Linked DNA regions of Homo sapiens: region 2 is linked to region 1. A link means that fine-mapping ties the variant in region 1 to the expression of a gene that starts in the linked region. Tissue or cell type: cerebellum. Region 1 holds a variant in brackets; the other region holds the start of a gene. All regions are shown on one strand. Distances are between the middles of the regions.

Region 1 (8,105 bases):
TCGGTTTTCATCTTGTCCATCTTGGGGAATCGTGGCATTCTAGGACATTCTGCACTCACTGGCCAGGGCCAGGGGCTCCCCGCATCAGCCACCGAGAGTGCCTACGTCCCTGCACAGACTCTCCCCCGTCTGGCCTCAGCAGAGAACCCTGACAGGACAGACGTCCTGTGCACTAATAGAAGTCAGAGGGGCCAGCTGGAACCTTCCAGATGCCACCAACTTTACCAAGCGGAGTGTGGGTCATCGCCAGCGTCCTGCCCACTGATAAGGAGACAAGGTGGTTGGGGGCACCACCCAGTGGTAACGAGGGGCGGGGAATGCAGTTTGGGCAGGTCTGAGGGACAGGGGCTTGGACCACCACACACACAGCACAGCTGCCACATCCTGAGCCTTTTCACACCCACTGCAGCCATGCAAACTCCGTGGCAGGTCCTGGGGCCGGGAGCTGCTTGCAGTGTGGCTTTCTCTAGGGCTTGCTGGCCCTGAGCTCCAGAGTTCGAAGTTCTTGCAATGGACTTTAGCCACAGTGTCCTCCGTGATTCAATGGACACAGAGGATGCATTTAGTTTATGGAGGAAGAGAGAAAACCTGCCAGTCTCAAGAACAGGGGATAACAGGGAGATTCACTGTGATTTTGGTTTCCTTTTATTCAGCTGAGCAGACATTTTATTCTCTCTGTGGGAGAGAATGAAACCACCCTCAGAGAGCCACAGGGTTTGTGAGTGGCCCTTAGTCAGGCTGCGTGTGGCTTGGGAAGTTTTCACTTTCCAGGGAATTCATGAGTCTGAGCCAAGAGCGAATATTTGGCTATTCTTCAGGCACCTTGTCCCCTCCCTTTCTCCCCTCCCCTCCTTTCTCCTTGGCTTCCACACTCCTCCCTTCCTTCCTTTCTGCCCCCTCCCTTTCTCCGTGATTCTCTTCTCTCCTCCCTCCCACTTCCTTCCCCATCCCCCTCCCCCCCTTCCCTTTTCATTTCCCTGGCTCCATCCCCTGCCTCCTCTCACCTCCCTCTCATCCCCTCCCTTCTCCCTCCCCCACTTGTGTTGGGCAGTGGCTGAACCCCTGGCAGGCCTGCACCCAGTCCTGGGAGCCCCAAGGTAGAAACATGGCCCCTGACTCCAGGTGTACCTGAGCTTGGATACAAGTGAGTACACCTGCCAGGGAGGCTGCTCTCAGGGCAGGATGTAGAGACTGATGGCGTCAAAGCAGGGGAATTTGGAGACCTGCCCAGTAGAGGAGGTTGCTCGGGTGTAAGGAGCGTGAACCGAGGTGCATGGAGGGTGGTGTAGGGCTGGCTGTGGGCCGAGGCGTGGAGTGTGGAGGAGGTATGGGTGGCTTGTTTTCTCCCTCATCCCTTTTTCCTTGGCAGAGAGTTGGGAATACTTTGAGGAGGATGTGGAGAAGGAGGAGGAGTGACAATGATGATGATGGTTATGGTGATGGTGGTGATAATGGTGATGGTGCTGATGATGGTGATGATGATAATGGTGGTGATGGTGATAATGGTGATGATGGTAATGATGATGGTGATGACGGTGGTGGTGGTGATGGTGATAATGATGATGATGGTGGTGATGGTGATGATGGTGGTGGTGGTGATGATGGTGATAATGGTGATGATGATAATGGTGGTGATGGTGATGATGGTGATGATGATAATGGTGATGATGGTGATAATGGTGATGATGGTAATGGTGATGGTGATGACGGTGGTGGTGATGATGGTGATAATGATGATGATGGTGGTGATGGTGATAGTGGTAGTGGTGGTGATGGTGGTGATAATGGTGGTGGTGGTGATGATGGTGATGTTGATGGTGGTGATGGTGATGATGATGATGGCAGTGGTGGTGATGATGGTGATGGTGATGACGGTGATGGTGAGAATGGTAGTAATGATGATGGTGATGGAAATGATGATGGTGGTGGTGATGATGATGGTGATGGTGATGATGGTGATGTTGAGGATGGTGATGGTGAGGATGGTGATGGTGAAGTTAAGATGATAAGAGAAATGGGTGCTATGTCAAGCACCTGGTGTGAGGTGGCATCACTGGCATTGGGCTTTCCTGGAGGTCTAGTTGGTCCCCCACTACCTCTCAGCACAGCAGCTGGGGTGACATTTTGAAAACCTGCTCTTCCCACTTCATGGTTTCTGGCCAGCCCTGGTCCCAGCCCATGTGTGGGACCTGCCATTTAGCTCTCCAATTTGGTAGCTCCGTCTGTCTCACCTTACCCCCAAAGTGTGATGTTAATGGTGAAATTTCAGATCTTATGAAGGACAGTGGAGGCGATATTTTGGGGGTGGGGATAGCCCTATCTGCAAATCAGCTCCAAAAGGCCACACTGTGCAGGGGTTTGGCCCCTCTCCCTGTGCATATGCTGAGCAGCCTCGTGATGACATGCTGAAAAGGAGGAAAGCTTGCATGGCCAGGCTGGCTGGCTTCAGAGAGGACAGCTCCATCTGTCTGCTCCGGGTTCCTGGCCTCTTTGGCGAGACTGGGACTGGCTCCCTACAGGACACTGTCAAGTATTCTTATTCTGTGTCTCTGCAGCCGCCTCCCTCCTCCTGCAGGCAGCCTTTTCCAGGCCATTAGCCCAGCTACGGGCCATCTGCCACCCTTGCTGAAGCCCCACAAGTTTGTCTGGGGGACAGGGCTGGGACAGCATATCTCTAGGAGGCCTGAGCCTACTACACTCCTCAGGCCCTGGGAGACTGAAACAAAGTCCTCGTCAGAGTCCTGGGGTGTGTGGCTCTGAGAATTACAGATGTCCTCACATACCTGTCAGAGGAGGCTGTGGGTGACACCTAGGTCCCCAGGCACCGCTGCTGAGCTGCTGTTTGACCTTGGGCCGGTCTCACCCTGCCTGGGCCTCAGTTTCTCCATTGCAGAAGGATGGGGTCCAGACCAAGGGGGATGAATTCTTACCATGGCAGGTGAATTCAGTGCCAGACACATCTTGTTATCTACTCATTATATCCACAAAGAAATAGGCCAGCTCCAATTTTTTCCTGAAACAAGAGGCTTCTGGATCTGTTTTTCCCCATTCTCACAAAAAATGGTGGCAAAAAACCCACTCAATTATATCTTCAATCTAGAAATGAACAGTGCGGTGCCATGATGGGTGACCTGGGACTCAGGGTGACAGTAGAGAAGGGCTCACGGGGGTGGAGGGCATGCCTGCCTGAAGCCCCAGACTCTCTCCAACTCCTCCTTTGTGGCCAGGTGGCATTGAGGGCCAGGTCTGCCAGCCGCTGATATTCAGGAGGGCTAGAAAGCTGGATTTTAATGTAAAATCTTCTTATTGTTCAGTGCTGGCAACTAACGCCAAAAGACTTTAATTACTGAATGCCAGCCAAGCGCATCTGCAGGCTCCACTGGTTTGGTCTGTAGGTCAACAGTTGCTGACCTCTGGCCCAAGGGGATGGCCCGTGAGGGCCTGCCCTTTGCTGTGATGCATGTGGTGAGCTCTCTGGCCAAGCAGGGTCTCTATGATGCTCACTAGGGATGCCAGGTGGTCTCAAGGTATGAAACGTCTTCTGGCAGCAGCTCAACACAATTTGGAGGAGTTGGGTCTTTACTCAGGGCCCCTGCTGTGGGGCCTGTAGCTGTTGGAGGGGAATCCAGTGCAGACAGATGGGTCTCTGGGAAGCTCTAGCTGGCTAAGGTCAGCCAGTAGGTGGGATGCCAGGACGCAGTGCAGGTGGAATGACACAGGGCCTCCCTGGACTTTAGAACAGTTTCCCTCCAGATCCAGCATCTATTTATTCTGCAAACCCTCAGCTCCTGCCTGGGACTGTGCTTACATACAGGTGTCCACATAAGGAAGAAACTGACTTGGCAGTGTGGCTGCCTGGAGGAGGAGGCAGTGACAGACAAGGAGAAGGGAACGGGAGGATGTCCCAGGAACAGCCTGTACAAGGCACCCCTAAACCCAGCCTGTCATTAAGTCCTGTGAATGCACCTATAAATTGTAGGCCTGGATGACTCCCTTTTATTCTTCTGACCATAACCAACATGCCTGAAGGCTCAGTTCATGCCAGCTTCCTGTAAACCACCTGTGC[C/A]GTGAATTCTCTCATTTAACCCTCACACAGCCTATGAGATAGGTACAGATCTGCAAACCCTTGGGGACCCATGTGCTTTGGAAGTCAAGAATATCCTTTTCATTTTAGAAAGGGTAACATGAGTTCTGTTTCTGGTAATGGTAGGGTAGCTGACATCAGAGCAGTCCTGCTGTTATTAAATAACTGTCAACTCTGGGAAGAATCAAAAGCAACCGTTTGAAGATACAGGAGAGCAAATAAAAGAAGGCAGAAGCTGGAAAGGACATGGTCTGTATGAATTTCCTGTTGCTGATGTCACAAATGAACACAAACTCAATGGCTTAAAACAATATGCCTTTATCATCTAACAGTCCTGGAGGTCAGCAGTCTGAAACCAGTCTCACCGGGTTAAAACCAGGGTGTCCATGGGGCTGCACTCCCTCTGGAAGCTCTAGGGGAGAGTCTCTTCTTTGCTTTTTCCAGCTTCTAGAGGCTGCCTGCCTTCCTTGGCTCATAACCCTGTCCTCACATCACTCCAGTCTCTTTCTTCCATCATCACATCTCCTCCTACTCACCCTGATCTTCTGCCTCCCTCTTACAAGGACGCTTGAGGTTACCCTGGGCCCACCCAGATAATCTAAAATCATCTATCCATCTCAAGAGCCTTAATTTAATCATATCTACAAAGTCCCTTTTGTCATAGAAGTTCACATTCACAGGTTACATGGGTTAGGACATGCATATGTTTTAAGGGGGCTTTGTTTTTAGCCTACCACGAGCATATATGTTTATAGTTGTGGTATCTCTTGATGGACTGACCCTTTTATGATGGTATAATGTCCTTGTTTGTCTCTAGTAACAATTTTTTTAAATTAAATTTATTTAGTCTGATATTATTATAACCATTTTAGCTCTCTTTTGGTTGTTGTTTACATGGAATATCATTTTATATCTGCCTGTAATCCCAGCACTTTGGGAGGCCAAGGTGGGTGGATCACAAAGTCAAGAGATCAAGACCATCCTGGACAACATGGTGAAAACCATCTCTACTAAAAATACAAAAATTAGCTGGGCATGGTGGCATGTGCCTGTAGTCCCAGCTACTTGGGAGGCTGAGGCAGGAGAATCACCTGAACCCAGGAGGTAGAGGTTGCAGTGAGCTGAGATTGCACCACTGCACTCCAGCCTGGCAACAGAGCAAGACTCCATCTCAAAATAAATAAATAAATAAATAAATAGAAATAAAAATTTATTGAGACAGGCTGGAGTGCAGTGGTGTGATCACAGCTCACTGCAGTCTTGATCTCCTGGGCTCAAAGGATCCTCTGGCCTCAGTCTCCCAAGCAGCTGGGACTATAGGTGTGCACCACTGCATCTGGTGAATTTTTTATTTTTTGTAGAGACAAGGTCTCACTGTGTTGCCAAGGCTGGTCTCAAACTCCTGAGCTCAAGTGATCCTCTTGTGTTGGCTTCCCAAAGTGCTGGGATTACAGGCATAAACCATTGTGACCAGCCTCATTTTATATCTTTTTACATTTAACTTATTTGTGCCTTTCAATCTAAAATGTGTCTCTTGTAGGCAGCATATTGTTGCATCATGAAAAAATGCCTATTCTGGTAATCTGTGCTCTCATATGGAGTGTTTCTATATTACAAGTGGGTGAACATCTTGGTAGGGAGCATTATGCAGCCTACAAGAAAAGATTTAAAAAAATTATCTAAGCTGCTTAACTCAAAAAGCTAGAAAAAAAGAACAAATTTAACTTTCATGATTTAGACAGAAAGATGTAATAAATACAGATAAACAGAAATTAAATAGAAAACAGATGAACACTATAGGAAAAATCAATAAAAGTTGGTTCTATGAAAAGATTACTAAAATTGATAAAGCCCTAATGAGAATTTTCAGGAGAAAATGCAAAGTACCCATAGTAAAAATAAAAAAGAGATATGTGAATTTGATAGACAATAAAAGATTAATAAGGGGATATGGTATACAAGTTTATGCTAACAAATTCAAACTCAGATAAAATGAAGTGGACAAATTCCTTGAAAAAGAAAACTGACACAAGAAGAAAAAGAGAATCTGAATAGCCCTATATTTGTTAAAGAAATTGAAATTGTGTTTTAGAACCTGTTCACAAAAACCCAATTGGCTTCATTGGTGAAATAATATTGGTTTTATCCAAACTCTTACACAGAGTTGAGCAAGAGGAAATAATTGATGCCCAAACCTGAAAAGGACATCACTAGAAAATAAATGAGACACCAACCTCTCTCATGAACACAAATGCAAATACCCATTTCAAAATATTCATAAATCAAATCCACCAATATATAAAAAGGATAATATGTCATGGCCAAGTGGGGATTGTCAGGCCTCTGAGCCCAAGCTAAGCTATCATATCCCCTGTGACCTGCACGTATACATCCAGATGGCCTGAAGCAACTGAAGATCCACAAAAGAAGTGAAAATAGCCAGTTCCTGCCTCAATTGATGACATTCCACCATGGTGATTTGTTCCTACCCCACCCCAACTAATCAAACGACCTTGTGACATTCCTCCCCTGGACAACGAGTCTCATGATCTCCCCACCGAGCACCTTGTGACCCCTGCCCCTGCCCGCAAGAGAAAACCCTCTTTAACTGTAATTTTCCACTACCTACTCAAATCCTATAAAACTGCCCCACTCCTATCTCCCTTTGCTGACTCCTTTTTCAGACTCAGTCCACCTGCACCCAGGTGATTGAAAAGCTTTATTGCTCACACAAAGCCTGTTTGGTGGTCTCTTCACATGGACATGCGTGACAGGGACTATCCAAGGAATACAAAGTTAACATTTGAAAATAAATCAGTGCAATTCCTCCCATTAACAGACTAACAAAGACAAACTGCATGGTCGCATTAATAAATGAAGGAACAAAAAGTTGATGGAATTCAATACCTATGTGTGATTAAAGGAAGTCAGAAAATTGGGAATAGATGGGAATCATATCACTATGATGAGGCGCACATACAAAAAGCCTGCAGCTAACATGTTTAATGGCAAAACATTGAGCACTTTCCTGAAAGGTTGGGAATGAGGTGAGGATGTCCACTTTTACTATTTCTATTAACATTGTATGGGAGGTCTTAATGAGTGATATAAAACAAAGAACAAAAAGTGCAAAGACCAGAAAGGAATTAGTAAAATTATTTCTAATTATTATTATTTATAATAACTATTAATCATGTGTTAATTATAATTATTAAAATTTTCCTAATTCTTATATTTATCACTATTAATCATGCATCATTTTAATTATTATTCACAATAATTATTCATTATTCATTATTTACAATAATAATGTCATGCAAATGATTTGATTGTATACGTAGAAACTCCTAAGCAGTTTTCAAAAAGACTATTAGAATAAGTGAATTCAGCAAGTTCACAGGATAGCTGTTAGATAAATATAAAAAAATCAAAGTCAATATACAAAAATAATACAAACTATCAATATACAAACAATATACAAACTATCAATGAATATTGGAAAAAGCAAATAAAAGATTATTTTTACATAGCATTGAGAAACCTTAAATAACTAGCAATACATTTTACCTGAAATGTATAACACACCTACAGTGAAAACTACAGAGACAGAAATGAAAGAAGACCACAATAAACAGAGAAAAACCATGTTCATAAATTGGTAAACTCAATGTTGCCAAGACGTCCGTTCTCCATAAGTTGATCCAGAGTAACTGAATAGAGTCAATGCTATCCCAGTCAAAATCAGTAGACATTTGCACAAACTGTCAAGCTGATTCTGAAATTTATATAGAAATGTAAATCTTGAAGAAGAAATATAAAAGTGTAGGAGTAACACCACTTGATTTCATAACTTAATGTAAAACTGCAGTAATGAAGACAGTGCGGTGTTGATAGAAGGACAGTGAAATAGAGCAGTCAACAGAATAGAGTCCAGAAGTCGACCCACCCTATACAATCAGTTGATTTACAATACAGATGCCAATGCAATCCAATGGGAAAAGGGGTTTTACCAGAACAACTG
Region 2 (8,105 bases), 24 kb after region 1:
CACATCAGGGGAGATGAGAGTTGGGTGGGTGACCAAGGGAATGGTGAGACCCTCCAGGAGAAGACCCCTCTCTCATTTCCACCCTCAGCCACCTGACCTAAGCTTCTCTTCCCTAAGACACTCAGGAGGAAGGTGTCCCCATTCCTCCCCTCCCCATGGTTACCTGGCCTCAAGAGCCTTCCGTGGGGCTGGTCCCTGTAGGCCAGGTGGGGGCAGGGACCAGGAGATGTGGGGAGAGGGTCTGAGACCCATGGGGCTCCCTGTTGCTAGTGGTGCCTTGATCCTCAGAATGGGCTTTTTTTTTTTTTTTTTTTTTTTTTTTTTGGAGATGGAGTCTGGCTCTGTTGCCCCAGGCTAGAGTGCAATGGCACCATCTCGGCTCACTGCAACCTCTGCCTCCCGGGTTCAAGTGATTCTCCTGTCTCAGCCTCCCGAAGAGCTGGGATTACAGGCGTGCATCACCATGCCCAGCTAATTTATTGCATTTTTAGTAGAGACAGGGTTTCACCATATTGGCCAGGCTGGTCTCGAACTCCTGACCTCGTGATCCGCCTGCCTTGGACTCCCAAAGAATAAAATATGACTTATTTTAAAGTCATAGGCAGAGCAGGAGGCACCGCCCATGTCTAATGAGTGGTGTGACCACAGAGGGACAGCTTACAGTGGCTGTGGGGCTTTTCGTCATCATCTTAAAGCAGCCCTCAACTCTTTGAGGCCTTTCCTTGACATCCATGAGGGGTTGTTTGCCAGTGGGCTCCCAGTCCCCAGCCCTCCAGCTTGGTCACACCATGCAGCCACATCAGGGCCACAGGAAAACTCCCTTTCCCCTGGCCATGTCCCTGCTGTCCTACAGCAGGACTCCAGCCCTCTGCAGGGTAGGGGGCACATGAGGAGGCTGCATCCTGCTCAACGTTGCCCGCCCTTTCCCCATGGGGAGAAGAGGGAGCTGTCTGATGATGGGGCTGGGAGGGGCCCTGAGCTTCCATGGCGTCTCCAGCCTCCCTCCATCCCCTCCCAAGGCAGTCGGCTCACGGGGACAGGTCCTGCGGGAGGGGTACTGAGTCCTGGGAGGCAGCACAAATCCCAGGGGACCTAGGCTGGAATCGGAGTCTTCATCACAGCTTTGCCAGAAATACAGCAAGTAATAGACTCTAGGAGACTGCCAGGTGCTCAGAGCCGGAGACATGCCTGCAGATACCCGGCCCCATGCTGCCCCTGTGGTTACCTGGCCCGTCATGTGTCTCTGAGTGCTTGGTGACCCCAGCTTCTCCTCTTGGGGTTGGGGGAGAGGGGATGGGGCCTTGCCTCTCCCCAGAGACTGGCTGGGGTCAGGGGCCGACACCAGGTGCCCCTCCCACCTTGGTGGTGGCTGGTCCTCCTGTGTCCTGGGAGGGCTGGGGTTTGGGGTGAGGAGGGTGGGGGTACAAGCAGAAACCCCCATAGCTGGTCTTAGCGGCTTCTTCCCACCTCAAGGTTGTGCTCAGAACCCCTGCTGTCTCCCTCCAGTGATAGGAGCACCCGAGACCATGCAGGGGGACGCTGCGGTGCTGGGATGCTGGGGAGAGGTGGCCCGGGGCGGGGCTATCGCTGAGCACAGAGGTGCCAGCCACCCCGTGAGGTGCTGGTCATCTCCCTCGGCTTACACCCTCAGCTCTGTGGTCTTTTGTTTGACTGGGGTGAAATGACAGCCTGAGGTTGTCCCCGCCTCAGGGGTGGGCATGGGGGTGGGGGGCTCAGTGGAGAGGAGGCCCCAGTCCCAGCACCTCAGGAAGCTGAGTCCTGCCCGTGGTCCAGTCTGAATCTCCTGCGGGTGGAGTCAAGCCTGGTTGGAGATATAGGGCTCTTCCTCCTGTCCCTGTGCTCCATCCTAGCACCCAAGGCCCCGGGAAGGCAGACCATGGGTGGGAGGTGAGGTGGTGGTGGAGGGAGCCCCACCTGGGCCAGCATCATCAGGAGGACACCCTGAGTGGGGCAGACGGGGCATCACTGCCATGGCAGGTGGGGAGATGTGGGGAGGGGGACAGATGCTCTCCTACTCAGGATAGCTTGGGGGGGTCACCAACCCTCAGGCCCAGAGGGAGGCAGAGATGAGTTTTGGGAGGTCTTAAGTCTGTTGATGGTGGACCCCCTCCCAGGCACAAGTCCCGTCCACCCATGGACGGAGCTATCTCCGGGATCTACCAGCAAGCTCCAGCCCCAAAGCAACAGGTGGGGTTTCTCCAGCCTGTGGCCCACCAAGGGCCATGGTCCCTCTCCTATCTCACCTCCTGCATGGCTGAGGAGGACACGGGCCTCATGGGTGGGCCCCAGGGAGAGAGCATGGCAGGGAAGCGATGGACATAGAGGGAGAGGGGAGAGTGCAGGAAGGGGAGAGGCATGAAGAGATGGGGGACAGAGAAGGAAACAGGGAGGAGAACAGGGGGACAAGGGGTTAGAGCCACGGAGCTCAGCCAGACCCTGCTGCTGCCCCCTCTCTGCTGTGACCCTGGAGGAGGTCTCCCTGTGGGACCATGTGCCCCACTGGGGGCTCGGGAGGGAGGCAGAGCTCTGTAGGAAGGGTCGCCACAGTTGGGTTACAGGACTGTGGGGAGTAGAGGAGTTTGTTGCATCCTTGGTGAGCAGGAGGAAGAGGAGAGGGAGGAGAAGGAGGGGAGGAGGCGGGGGAGGACGATGGAAGAGAACAGGAGGGAGGAGGAGGAGGGGGAGGAGAAGGAGGGGAGGAGGCGGGGAAGGACGATGGAACAGAAGAGGAGGGAGGCACAGCATTCCCCATCCCTGGGTGGTCCAGGAGTGGCTCTGTGTCCCGCCCAGACAGCCAATACTGAGAAGCCCTGAGGCTGAGCACCCAGGTGTGGCAGGGAGGAGAGGGCCTATCCCCGGCTGCCCCCATGACTCCCCTTGAGAGTCTGCACCTGCAGGGAACACTCTAGATCATGGAGGAAGCAAGGCAGACAGGAGACAGAGCCACCGGGGGTGGGGGGTTGGGGAGCCATCACCCAAGCTATCGTCCTCTTCCAGACTCAGCCCAGGGCTGGCTGCGGACCAGGTGGTGCGGCCCGTCAGAGGGCGGAGGCTGCAGCCTGGAGAGCTCCCTGTTGATAGCATCTGCTGTTGCCCACGCCCCACCCCTGCCACCATCTGGCCAGCAAAAGAGCCCAGAAAATGCCGAGCGCCTGGGCCGGCCCCAGAGACCCACCCTGATCCAGCCACCTGCGCTACTCACCGTTTGGGGCAGAGGACTGGCCGAGCCCTGCCTGCTCTGACCCTGGGCCTTGGATCTATCCTGGCCGCGGCCGAGGGCTCCAGTCCCCAGAGCCTCTGGGCGGCTCCTGTTCAGTGTCCACCAGCTCCTCCGAGTCACATGGCATCCAGCTGGAATGGGGCCGGTCAGGAAGGTGTCTCTCTGAGGACCCCTTCTCTTCCGCTCAGCTCTCGCCCAGGTGTGGACAGCAAGAGAAACCCTGAACCTCCCTGCAGCCTTCCAGGCAGGCCTGGCAGGCAGAGGAAACCACGAGATCTCTGGGTGGAGCCCAGCCAAGCTGTGACTTCACTGGCACTCCTGGCTCAGAGACACCAAGCCCTGTAGGGCCCTTTAGGGACCACTTCTTTCCATCTGTGCCTCGGAGGGGCCGGCTGAGAGCCGGGCTACCGGCGGAACTTGTCCTTGCAGCAAAAATGTGTTTTTCTCTCCGCAGAGCACAGGCTGCCGGCCCCAGCTCTCCAGGCAGTGTGGGACCGCGGGGAGGAGCGGGGATGTGCGTGAGGCCGTCCCTCCTGCCTCGTTCGCAGGCACAGAGTAGATGGCCGGTGTCAAGAAGCTGCCGCGCGGTCCCCGGCCGAGGAGAATCAAACACATACAGCAGCGTCAGGCTCCGGGAGACCTCGTGAACTCAGTGATTTCAAGTCCCGTTTCAGACCGTGCCTTTCCTTCCAGTGCCCTGCCTTAAGGGAGATCGCAATTGACGTGCCAAGAGAAGGAAAACAAGGTCATTTTTTGGCCTCTGTTCCTCCCCGAGTCCAGGCCCTAGCAACTCTTTTCTCATCTTTGTCTTTAGAAAAATCTCCGAGGTAGAGAAGAGTGCAGAAACAGCACGGATTTGCTCCGGAGCGTTTCCCACTCTGCGCAGTCCGCCTGACCTCTCCTCTTGCGGACCAAGTGAGAGCAAGTTTCCCGCACGTGGCCTTTGACCTGTCACTACATCAGCAGGCATCCCCCAGGGCACCGGCATCCTCCATCCCCAAAACGGAGGGGCCGCACACAGGTCGTCTGGCGTCTGTGCAATGCTGGTGTCTGATGAATGTGTCGCGCTGGTGTCTGACGTCCATGCGGGGCTGGTATCTGACAGGCAGCAGTGCCGCTTGCTGAGTTGTGTCTCAGCTTCAAATCCTCCCTTCCTAAACCAGGATCCGAGCTGCCAGGTGCCCGAGGCTCTGTAAACCATGCCTGGGCTCTGCCACCGCTCTGGGAGGCCCTACCAGTGGGTGGTCACTCAAGGATGGCCCAGGGGTGTGGGGGAAGTGCTCCCAATCGCCCCACACGTTCCAAATATCTCACCCTTCTAAGTGCCACACTCCCTCCAGTTGTCCCACAGTTCCAATAGTGCCACTCCTTTCAATTGTCCATCCCACCCTTTCATAAGTTCCATGCCTTCCACTTGTCTTACACCTTAAAGCTGTCCCACCCTTCCAAATGCCCGACCCTTCCAATTGTCCCACTCCTTCCAACTGTCCCACTCTTCCATTTGTCCCACTCTTCCATTTGTCCCACTCCTTCCAATTGTCCCACTCTTCCAATTGTCCCACTCCTTCCAATTGTCCCACTCTTCCATTTGTCCCACTCCTTCCAATTGTCCCACTCTTCCATTTGTCCCACTCCTTCCAATTGTCCCACTCTTCCAATTGTCCCACTCCTTCCAATTGTCCCACTCTTCCATTTGTCCCACTCCTTCCAATTGTCCCACTCTTCCATTTGTCCCACTCCTTCCAGTTGTCCCACCCTCCAATTATCCCACCTTCCAATTGCATTAGCCTTCCAACTGTCCCACCCTTCCAATTTTCCCACTCTTTCCAATTGTCCCAGCCTTCCAATTGCCTCATCCTTTTAATTATCCCACTCTTTTAGTTGTCCCCCTCCTTCCAATTGCCCCATTCTTTCCAATGGTCCCACTTTTTAAATTGCCCTTCCCTTGCAATTGTCCCCCTCTTTCAATTGACCCACCTTTCCAATGGTCTTACCTTCCAATTGATCCACCTTTCCAATGGTCTCACCTTCCAGTTGTCCCACTCCTTCCAGTTGTCCCACTCCTATCAATTGTACTGCCTTCCAATTGCCTCACTCTTCCAATTGTCCCACCCTTCCAATTTCCCCACAGTTTTAATTGTCCCACTCTTTCAATTGTCCCACCCTTCCAATTGTCTCACCGTTCCAATTGTCCAACCCTCCCAATTGTCCCACTCCTTCCAATTGTTCTACCTTTTTAATTGTCCTACCATTCTAGTTGTCCCACCCTTCCAACTGTCCCACTCTTCCAATTGTCCCACCCCTCCTATTGTCCCACTCCTTCCAGTTCCCCTACCCCTCCAATTGTCTGACTCTTTCCAATTAGTCCATCTTCCTTTATGTTTTCGAGCTTCACTTTCACTCCCTGTCAGAGTTGCCCCAGCAACTCTCTCTCTCTCTCTTTTTGAGACAGAATGCCACTCTGTTGGCCAGGCTGAGGTGCAGTGGCATGATCACAGCTCACTGCAGCCTCCAACTTGCAAGCTGAAGCATTTTTTCCTCAGCTTCCTGAGTAGCTGGGACTTCAGGCATGCACCAAGTGCCAGGCTACCAGAGGCTTGTCTGGCTAATTTTTAAATTTTTAACTTTATAGAGATAGGGTCTCGATACATTGCCTAGGCTTGTCTCTAGTTCCTGATCTCAAGCAATCCTCCTGCCTTGGCCTCCGAAGGTGCTGGGATTATAGCTGTGAGCCACCATGCCTGGCCCGCAGCAACTTTCTCCACCTTGTAGCAGCAGTGGACTTCTGCAGTTTTCCCAGCACTTGAAAAACCAGACCCATTGTTTCCTGTTGGAGACACTGGCCACTAACTGGCTGGGAGCCCCCTCAGGGGCCTGAATTACACTCTAGTCGTCCCCACTGGTCCTAAATTTCAATAGTTTTAACTTCCTTCCTTTGTTCCCCGTGCCCGGGGTGGCGGCTCTTTTTGCAGTTGTTTCTTCTCTAATACCTTAGTGTTCCCTTTGTACGTGTTTGGTTTTTCAGTCTCTAGTGAACAATTCTTTAAGATCATCCCTTCAAAATTATAGGTAGCTTCTGCCTACTGACTGTGTCCCTGCTGGTACTGAAAGGTCCTAGGGGAAACATGGTAATTTAGGCTTGGTTTGGTCATGTCCTTGGCCTTGACTGTCGTGATGAGTTTCTGGTCAGTGACACTGGTGATCCATGCCACTCTGTGGCTCATCATCAATCAAACAAGCACTTGTGATGGGTTATGTTGAAGTCAGTGCCTTGGGGGACCATTTGCCTATTGGACTTGATCATCATAACATTCATGGGGACCAGGAGCACTGTGGCATGTGACAGGATTGGAGCTTCAAGAAAGAGGATGACGACTTCTACTTCTGGTTCTAAAGGGGCAATAGGGGCTGGAATCACCCTCCCATTATAAAAATCTAAAAAACCAAAACACGGTTTGTGAATTTAGACAACAGGCCGAGCAGGACTGTGGTCCCAAGAAAATGGAAGCTGATGGGCACGCCCTATGCTCACCCAAACTTTCTGTCTGGAGGTGGCTTCCGGACTGCAACACAGGCCAGAAGAGGCAAAGGGGCTCAGCAGGTTAAATGCCAAATCAGGAGAAGGTTGAAAACAACACAGGTAAGACTGGCAGTCAAGACAACAGCAAATGGACAAGCTGTAGAGAAAAGCAATGACATCAAAGGTGTTTTATTTAAGATGATTAATAAAATGGAATAACCTTGGATGGACTGATTAAGAAAACAAAAAGTGCTTGAGCTCAGGAGTTCGATACTAGGATACTAGCCTGGGTGACATAGCACAATCCTGACTCTACAAAAAATACAAAACAAACAAACAAACAAACAAAAAAAACAAAATTGTCTAGGTATGGTGGTGCATGTCTGTGGTCCCAGCTACTCAAGAGAGGGAGGCTGAGGTGGGAGAATGGCTTGAGCCTGGGAGGTTGAGGCTGCAGTGAGCCAAGATCAGGCCACTGCACTCCAGCCTGGGTGACAGAGCAAGACCCTGTCTCAAGAAAAGAAAAAAAAAAAAAAAGAAAAGAAAAAAGAGAAACTGCAAATCACCTATATATTGGTAACGAAAGAGGGGATACCACTACCGGTCCCAGATACTTAAATGGTAAAGGTGGAATGTAAAAATAAACTGTATGCCAATAAGCTTGACAATTTGGATGAAATGGTCAAATTCTTTGAAAGACACAATGAAAACATGAATAGTTCTCAATATGAAAACAATGAGCTCGTAATTTAACACTTTCTCTCAAATAAGTCTCTAGTTCCAAATTGCTTCACTGGCAAATCTATAAGATAGACAAAAAATAAATAATCCCAACCCTGCAAAACTCTTTTAGAAAACAGGAGTAAGGAACATGCCAATTCATTTTAGGAGGCCAGCATTAATCTAATAATCTGATATACAAACTGGACAAAGACATTCTAAGAACAAAAAACTACAGACCAATATTGTCATGAACATAGGCTCAAAACACTTCATATAATATAAGGAAGAATTGTAAGCCATTTGAGTTTATCTTAGAATGATGAAGGATTTATAAGGTGTAACTGGGGTTTTGCTTTTTTTAAATGTGAGGGAATTTATATCAGTTGAATTGTTTGGACTTTTTCCTGCTTTTTCTTCCAGAACCTTTGTATAGATGAAGACTATGTCTCTGCATTTTTGTGCGTAAGGATGGCAAGATAGAGTGGTTTAAAAGATGCCAGTTTATGAGCTTCTTTTTTGGTCAGTCTTGGAAAACATAATTTTTTTTAGAGCAGGGTGGGGGGCATACAGTGAGAGAAGAGAATTTTTTGTCCTGCAAACTTTTGATTTTTTTCGTCTTGC

Direction of the effects. Positions count from the first base shown, and alleles are read on the strand shown. Sizes are in standard deviations (SD) of each study's normalised expression.
With allele C in place of A in region 1, the expression in cerebellum of the gene that starts at base 3,500 in region 2 is lower (moderate effect, 0.51 SD a copy in GTEx).

The links. PIP is the estimated chance that this variant, and not a neighbour inherited with it, causes the effect.
Region 2: MRGPRE starts here. The variant in region 1 is fine-mapped to the expression of MRGPRE in cerebellum (GTEx, PIP 0.99).

Annotation. Positions count from the first base shown.
Region 1 is chr11:3,205,173-3,213,277 of GRCh38, forward strand. No RefSeq gene overlaps it. Among named protein-coding and RNA genes, the nearest start is that of MRGPRG-AS1, 9.1 kb to the right of the region's middle. The variant C/A (reference allele first, on the strand shown) is at 4,067.
Region 2 is chr11:3,228,918-3,237,022 of GRCh38, forward strand. MRGPRE (MAS related GPR family member E) reads right to left here and starts at 3,500. Exons shown (of 2, transcript NM_001039165.4): 1 at 3,224-3,500.